2 linked regions of the Homo sapiens genome follow. The protein of the gene in region 1 purifies or fractionates together with the protein of each later gene. This does not show direct contact. Each region holds a gene or a part of one and is shown in the gene's direction. Other genes may lie near its edges. The genes, in order: AGR3 and C11orf54.

Region 1 (3,825 bases):
AAATATGGTATATTCATACAATGGAATAATATTTGACCATAAAAAATGAATTAAATAATAATACATGGCACTATAAGGATGAACCTTAAAAAGGTTATGCTGAGTGAAAAAATCTAGTCACAAAAGCCTACATATTGTATGATTCCATTTATATGAAATGTCCAGCATAAGCAAATCTATAGAGACAGAAAGTAGATTAGGGGTTTCTTAGGGCTGTGGCATTTGAAGAAAATGGGGAGCAGGTGATAGCTAAATGGTATAGGGTTTCTTTTTGAGGAGATGAAAATGTTCTAAAATTGATGTGATGATGGTTGCACAACTTCGTGGATATACTGAAAAAAGCACACATTTTCTTTTTTTCTTTTTTTTTTTTTTTTTGAGATGGAGTCTCGCTCTGTTACCCAGGCTGGAGAGCAGTGGCGCAATCTTGGCTCACTGCAACATCCACCCCCAGGTTCAAGCGATTCTCCTGCCTCAGCCTCCCGAGTAGCTGGGACTACAGGCACATGCCACCACACCCAGCTAATTTTTGCATTTTTAGTAGAGACAGATTACACTGTATTGACCAGGCTAGTCTTGAACTCCTGACCTCAAATGATCCACCCACCTTGGTCTCACAAAGTGCTAGGATTACAGTCATGAGCCACCATGCCTGGCCAAAAGTATACGTTTTCAATAGGTGAGTTGTATTGGCGTATGAATTTTATTTCAATAAAGCTGTCGCCAGAAAACAAACATGAAAAACAAGCAAAAATCATGGAATCATATTTATCAAATTACTATCATATTTACCATGATATTAAAGCCAGAAACTGTGGTCTGACAACATTTGAAATGTACAAGAAAACCTGGGCCCAAACTGACTTCCAAATATTGCTAATTTTCACATTAATTCAATCTCTCTCATTCGTAGACTGAGACACTTCCTGAAAATACTCAGTAATGTTTTTGGAGGTTCTGCACATTCTTCTACTTGATGATTTTATCTTTAATTGCTTATACACATTCCCAACTATTCATACCATTTCTTTAAGGCTAATGGGTTCTCTCTATATTCATTGCTTTCTGTTTTTTCTCTCCATTCTTTTGGGTGTTTCCAAAACACATGCGTTTTATTATGTCTCTTGGCCATGAAATTCCCACACAAGAATTTTTTCCATGTCAGAATTCAAAGCAAAACTTGGAATTCCCTTATTTCACAACGTATACTGACTTAGAAGAGGTCAACATCTCTTGGGACCCAAAATAGGAGGGCATTGTAGAGTACAGCCGAAAGGATTCCTAATAATATTACAAAGTATGCAAAGATGAACTGTTACTTTCCAAGCGTTCCTAAAGCCACAGCTTTTACATTATCCAAAGATGTCCTTTCAATCAGCTCTAATCATAACAACATGTATTGAGTACTTACTGGGTTCAAGGCCATGGGCCTCGAGGTTTGAAATGCAGTAGCAAAACCTCAGTACTGCAATCTAAAGGGAAATCACCTCCATATCTTGTGAAAATTGTGTGTCCTCTGCACCATATGTCAGCCAACAGCTTGATGGCTTAGTTAAATATCTGTAGGTAGATATCTGATTATTAGATACCCATTTCCGAGCTCTTCTCTAGTTCTGGGTTACTGCATTGATTTCTCTCTTCTATTTCAGGATGGGGAGATGACATCACTTGGGTACAAACTTATGAAGAAGGTCTCTTTTATGCTCAAAAAAGGTAACATGCTTCTCAGCTCATTTTTTTCCTTTTATTTGTAGTAGACTCATAATAATTGTACATATTTATGGAATATAGAGTGATATGCTGATACATGTACACAATGTGTAGTGATCAAATCAGTGTAATTAGCATATGCATCACCTGAAACATATCATTTCTTTCTGGTGGGAACACTCAAAATCCTCTCTACTAGCTTTTTAAATATATACAATAAACTATTGTTAACTGTATGTACCCTATAGTGCTGTAGAATACTACTCAAACTTATTCCTCCTATCTAGCTATATTTTTGCATCTATTAATCAACCTCTCCTTATCCTTCCAGCTCTGAACCCTCCCCAGCTTCTAATAACCAGAGTTCTACTCTCTACTTCTATTAGTACAACTTTTTTTTAAGCTACTCTATATGAGTCAGAATTTGTGGTATTTATCTTTCTATATCTGACTTATTTCACTTAACACATCCTCCAGGCTCATTCATGCTGCTGTGAATGAGAGCATTTCATTATTTTTATGTCTGGGTAGTAGTCCACTGTGAATATATAACATGTTCTCTTTATCCATCCATCCATTGATGGACATTTAGGTTGATTCTATATCTTGGCTATTGTGAATAGTGATTCCATAAATATGGAGATGCAAATATCTCTTTGATATACTGATTTTTTAAATAAATACTCAGTAGTAGGAAAGCTGGATCATATGGTAGTTATATTTTTAGTTTTCTGAGAATCCTCTATATGTTTGCATAATGGCTGTACTAATTTACATTCCTACCAACAGTGTATAAGAATTCCCTCTTCTCTGCATCCTCACCAGCATTTGTTATTTTTTGTCTTTTTGATAATATCAGTTCTAACTGTGGTGGGATAATATCTCATTGTGGTTTTGATCTGCCTTTCCCCGATGATTAGAGATGTTGAGAATTTCTTCATATCCTTGGCCATTTGTGTGTCTTCTTTTGAGAAATGTCTATTCAGATCTTTTGCCCATTTTAAAATCAAATCATTTGGGGTTTTTTGTTGTTGAGTTGTTTGAGTTCCTTGTATATTCTAGATATAGGCCCATGTCGAATGAATAGTTTGCAAATAATTTCTCCTATTCTACAGTTTGTCCCCTTATGCTTTTGTTTCCTTTGCTGTTCAGATGCTTCTCAGGTGACATAGTCCCATTTGTCTATTTTTGTTTTTGTTGCCTGTGCTTTTGAAATCTTACCCATACATTTTTTTGCAGGGAACAATGTCCGAAGGGCTTCCCTTATATTTTCTTCTAGGAGTGTTATAGTTTGGGGTCTTACATTCAAGTCTTTAGTCCATTTTGAATTGATTTCTGCATATGGTAAGAGTTAGGAGTCTAGTTTCATTCTTCTACATATGGATATCCAGGTTTTCCAGCACCATTTATTGAAGAGGGTGTCCTTTCCCCAATGCATGTTCTTGCCACCTTTGTTAAAAATCAGCTGACTTTAAATACGTGGATTTATTTCTGGGTTCTCTATTCTATTCCATTGGTCTAGGTTTCTGTTTTTATACAAATACCATGCTGTTTTGTTTACTATAGCTTTGCAGTATATTTTGAAGTCAAGTAGTATGATGCCTGCAGTTTTGTTCTTTTCACTCAGTATTGCTTTGAACTATTTGGAGTCTGTTGTGGTTCTATACAAATTTGAAGATTTTTTTCTTTCTGTTTCTGTGAAAAATATCATTGGTATTTTGATAGAGATTGCATTGAATCTGTAGATTGCCTTTGGTGGTATGGTCATTTTAGCAAAATTCATTCTTCCAATCCATGGCATGGGATGTCTTTCCATTTTTTGGTGTTCTCTTCAATTTCTTTCATCAATGTTTTATAGTTTTTCTTGTAGGGATCTTTCACCTCCTTGGTTAATATATTCCTAGGTGTGTGTGTGTGGTTTTTGTTTGCTTGTTGTTTTTTTGAGATGGAGTCTTGCTCTGTCACCAGGCTGGAGTACAGTGGCGCGATCTCAGCTCGCTGCAACCTCTGCCTCCCAGGTTCCAGTGATTCACCTGCCTCAGCCTCCTGAGTAGCTGGGATTATAGGCACATGCCACCATGCCCAGCTAATTTTTTATTATTAGTAGAAACAGGG
Region 2 (3,825 bases), on another chromosome or scaffold:
TCAAGATATTCTCTTTGCAGAGATACAAAGATTGACTAATTGCCTCACTTTCTTTTCAGTTTATGCCAGTTATTCAGACAGAAAGTGAACACAAGCCTCCTGTAAATGGAAGTTACTTTGCCCATGTGAACCCTGCAGATGGAGGGTGCCTACTGGAGAAATACAGTGAGAAATGTCATGATTTTCAGTGTGCATTACTGGCTAATCTTTTTGCCAGTGAAGGCCAACCTGGCAAGGTGATTGTGTCCATAAAAATACAATATTCCCTAAATGTTCTCAGAAAGCTAAAAATGTGAACTTTTACTGCCATAAATATGGTTTTGCTAAGAAAATTAGTTTCCCACTTTGGGAGGCCAAGCTGGGTGGATAACTTGAGGTCAACTTGAGGTCAGGAGTTCAAGACCAGCCTGGTCAACATGGTGAAACCCCATCTGTACCAAAAAATACAAAAATTAGCAGGGTGTGGTGGTGTGTGCCTGTAATCCCAGCTACTCGGGGGGGCTGAGGTGAGAGAATCGCTCAGACTCGGAAGGCAGAGGTTGCAGTGAGCCAAGATCATGCTACTACCCTCCAGTCTGGGCCACTGAGTGAGACTCTGTCTCAAAAAAAAAAAAAAAAAGAAAATTAGAGCTTCCTAAGTCAAAGCTCTTTAAATAACCCAGTAATGAAAGGTTCAGAGAGTATGACAGGCAGAGCAAAAGTCATCTTTAAGGTTAAGAATAATATGGCTGGAGGCCAGACGCGGTGGCTCACGCCTGTATTCCCAAGCATTTTGGGAGGCCAAGGTGGGTAGATCACCTGAGGTCAAGCATTTGAGACCAGTCTGGCCAACATAGCGAAACCTCGTCTCTACTAAAAATACAAAAATTAGACAGGGAAGGTGGCACATGCCTGTAGTCCCAGCTACTTGGGAGGCTGAGGCAGGAGAATTGCTTGAACCTGGGAGACAGAGGTTGCAGTGAGCCAAGATTGCACCATTGCACTCCAGCCTGGGCAACAAAGCAAGACTCTGTCTCCAAAAAAAAAAAAAAAAAAAAAAAGAATAGTATGGCTGGCACAATGGCTTATGCCTATAATTCCAGTCCTTTGAGAGGCCAAAGCTGGAGGATCACTTAAGGCTGGCAGTTTCAGACCAGCCTGGGCAACATGGCAAGACCCTGTCAAAAAAAAAAAAAAAAAATTTTTTTTTTTAATTAGCCAGGTGTGGTGGTACATGCCTATAGTCCTAGCTACTCAGGAGGCTGATGCAGGAGGATCCCTTGTGCCCAGGTGTTTGAGGCCGCAACGAGCTATGATCACACCACTGCACTCCTACCTAGGTGACAGCAAGACCTGTCTTAAAAAAAAAAAAAAAAGACTACTTAGTAAGCAAGACCTTTTTCTGAGAACTAAAAGGTAATAGAATATTAATTTGGGGAGTGAGTTTGTCATCTACATGAACCATACAGCTAAAATAAATAATGCCTACTTACAGGTAGTAAATAGGTTATTTGCTTCTTTCTGATGAATCACACATTGCTCTAGATAGAAATGGTGGTAGCAAAAACTTACAGCAAGAACAAAGTAAGGAAAACTAATGCCTTACTTGATATTTACTTCCTATTAGTACACAAAAATATGATTTCAGTGTTAGCTTTTGTGAAGACTCTCCAGTTTTGGAAGTAGAGATAGCCTCTTCAGCTACTTTGAGATAAGAGATTGAGAAGTGAAAATACTTAACGTCCAAGTTGTGGAGATAATACAGAATTTTAAGGGAAGTGAGAAAATGTAATCATTTTCTCCTCATCCCCACTTACCAAAGGTTAATTCCTTTAACCAAAGAATTACCAAAGGTAATTCTCAATCTTTGACTGCCTCGACACGTATGTTAAGAGTCTCTAGACTCTCTGCACTGAGAAACTTGTCTTTCTCAGTTTCTCAGTTCAAGAAAGCATGCTTAAGACTTACTAGTAAATTACATGTAACTGATAAGTATGTGTGTGTGTGTGTGCATACATATATATATGACTGATCAAAATTCACGGGATTGCAACATCTCAACTCAGATCTGGGGGCTCTAAGCAAAGAACAGAATATTTGCTTGATAGAATTAAATTATATAATGTTTTATTTCAGTAGTTATTTTGCAGCATAGTCAATGGTATGCATCTTTATGTCCTCTATAGGTAATTGAGGTGAAAGCCAAAAGAAGAACTGGACCACTTAACTTTGTGACTTGTATGAGAGAGACCCTGGAAAAACATTATGGAAATAAGCCTATAGGAATGGGAGGTACTTTCATAATTCAGAAGGGAAAAGTGAAGTCTCACATTATGGTAAGAGCCCATGTGTGCATACATGCATGAAGGAGTTTGTGTGTGTGCACTTACTTAAGATCTTAGGATTTTTTTTTTTTTTTAAACGGATCCTTGCTCTGTTGCCCATGCTGGAGTGTAGTGGCACAATCTTGGCTCACTGCAACCTCCATCTCCCGGATTCAAGGGGTTCTCCTGCCTCAGCCTACTGAGTAGCTGGGATTATAGGCATGCAGCATCACAACCGGCTCATTTTGTAGTTTTAGTAGAGACAAGGTTTTGCCACATTGGCCAGACTGGTGTCGAACTCCTGACCTCAGCTGATCCACCTGTCTCGGCCTCCCAAAGTGCTGAGATTACAGACGTGAGACGCTGCACCGGGCCAGATCTTAGGATTGTAAAGTATGTGTTGGGAATTCTACATTTGAAGACACTTTAAACAAATCCTTTTTATTATGATTGTATTACTTTAAAATTTAAATGATAATTTTATAAATCAGATTGTAAGATAATATCTTTGTCCATGTTAGTATATTAGAACTTTATTTTGGATATGTTTGTTTTTAAGATCAAGATAAATTCAAGGCCTGCAGAGTGACTCATGCCTGTAATCCCAGCACTTTGGGAGGCCCAGGTGGGAGGACCGCTGGAGGCCAGGAATTCAAAACCAGCCTGGTCAACATAGTGATGATGGCAGCGGCAGGCTCTCTGGAGCGGCTGCAGCAGGGAGGCACGGCTGAGGCTACACACTCTATGGAGCGGGTGGGAGCTGAAGACAGGTGGGAGTCCTGCCCCTTCCGAGTTGGCGCTGGAGCTCCGTTGGTGCCGCTGCAATCGCCCAAGCCATGGCTGTAGTCCCTGGCATCCCTGTGCTCTCCCAGTGGGAACAGGCGAGAGCCCCAACTGCCCAGGCGCAGCTGCAGCAGCTCAAACCCGCGGCTGCAGACCTGGGTCTCCCGCTCCACGGAGCAGGCAGGAGCCCTGCCTTCTCCACACAGCTGCAGCTGCCCAAACCGTGGCTGCGGACCCAGGCATTCCTGCATTCTTGGGGGTCTGGGAAGGCCCCCACTGCTCTTACAGGCTTGGAAATGCCTGCTCCCACTGCCTGGCTTCTCCCTGCTGTCGGCGCCTGCTCCGATCCAGGAGCAAAGTCAGGCAGAGCCCGGTCGCTGTCGCAGCCCAGCCAGGTGTGCACACGCTCAGGGCACTGCTGACACACCAGCCCCCTGCCGTCCCGGCCCCTTCTGGATTTGGGGCGCTGACACGAGCGTAGAAGGGAAGCTGAGCGGCGGCTGAGAGCAGCTCCCCACTGGCCTTCAGGCACCCCTTGGCACCTACAGCCTGGATTCCGTGATCGGCAGCAGGAGGCAGACAGGTTCCGGGGCAGAAGGGGGCGGGTTTCCGGTGAGGCCCCACTTTCGGGCCAGGGAAGGCCTGAAGGCTGGGGGCCCAGCTGCCAATCCCACACACCAGAGTGGAAACTTGTGGTGCTTTTTCCAGGCCCACTGTGATCATCCCACTGCACTCCAGC

The links.
Region 2: the proteins of AGR3 (region 1) and C11orf54 fractionate together in Homo sapiens (co-fractionation; one large-scale study listed by BioGRID). This does not show direct contact.

Annotation. Positions count from the first base shown.
Region 1 is NC_000007.14:16,871,668-16,875,492, reverse strand, and holds part of AGR3 (anterior gradient protein 3 precursor), read left to right. Parts: intron 1-1,649; coding exon 1,650-1,713; intron 1,714-3,825. UniProt on the Homo sapiens protein: Required for calcium-mediated regulation of ciliary beat frequency and mucociliary clearance in the airway. Might be involved in the regulation of intracellular calcium in tracheal epithelial cells.
Region 2 is NC_000011.10:93,755,151-93,758,975, forward strand, and holds part of C11orf54 (ester hydrolase C11orf54), read left to right. Parts: intron 1-59; coding exon 60-236; intron 237-2,165; coding exon 2,166-2,315; intron 2,316-3,825. UniProt on the Homo sapiens protein: Exhibits ester hydrolase activity on the substrate p-nitrophenyl acetate, in vitro. Regulates DNA damage and repair by regulating HIF1A degradation via chaperone-mediated autophagy (CMA).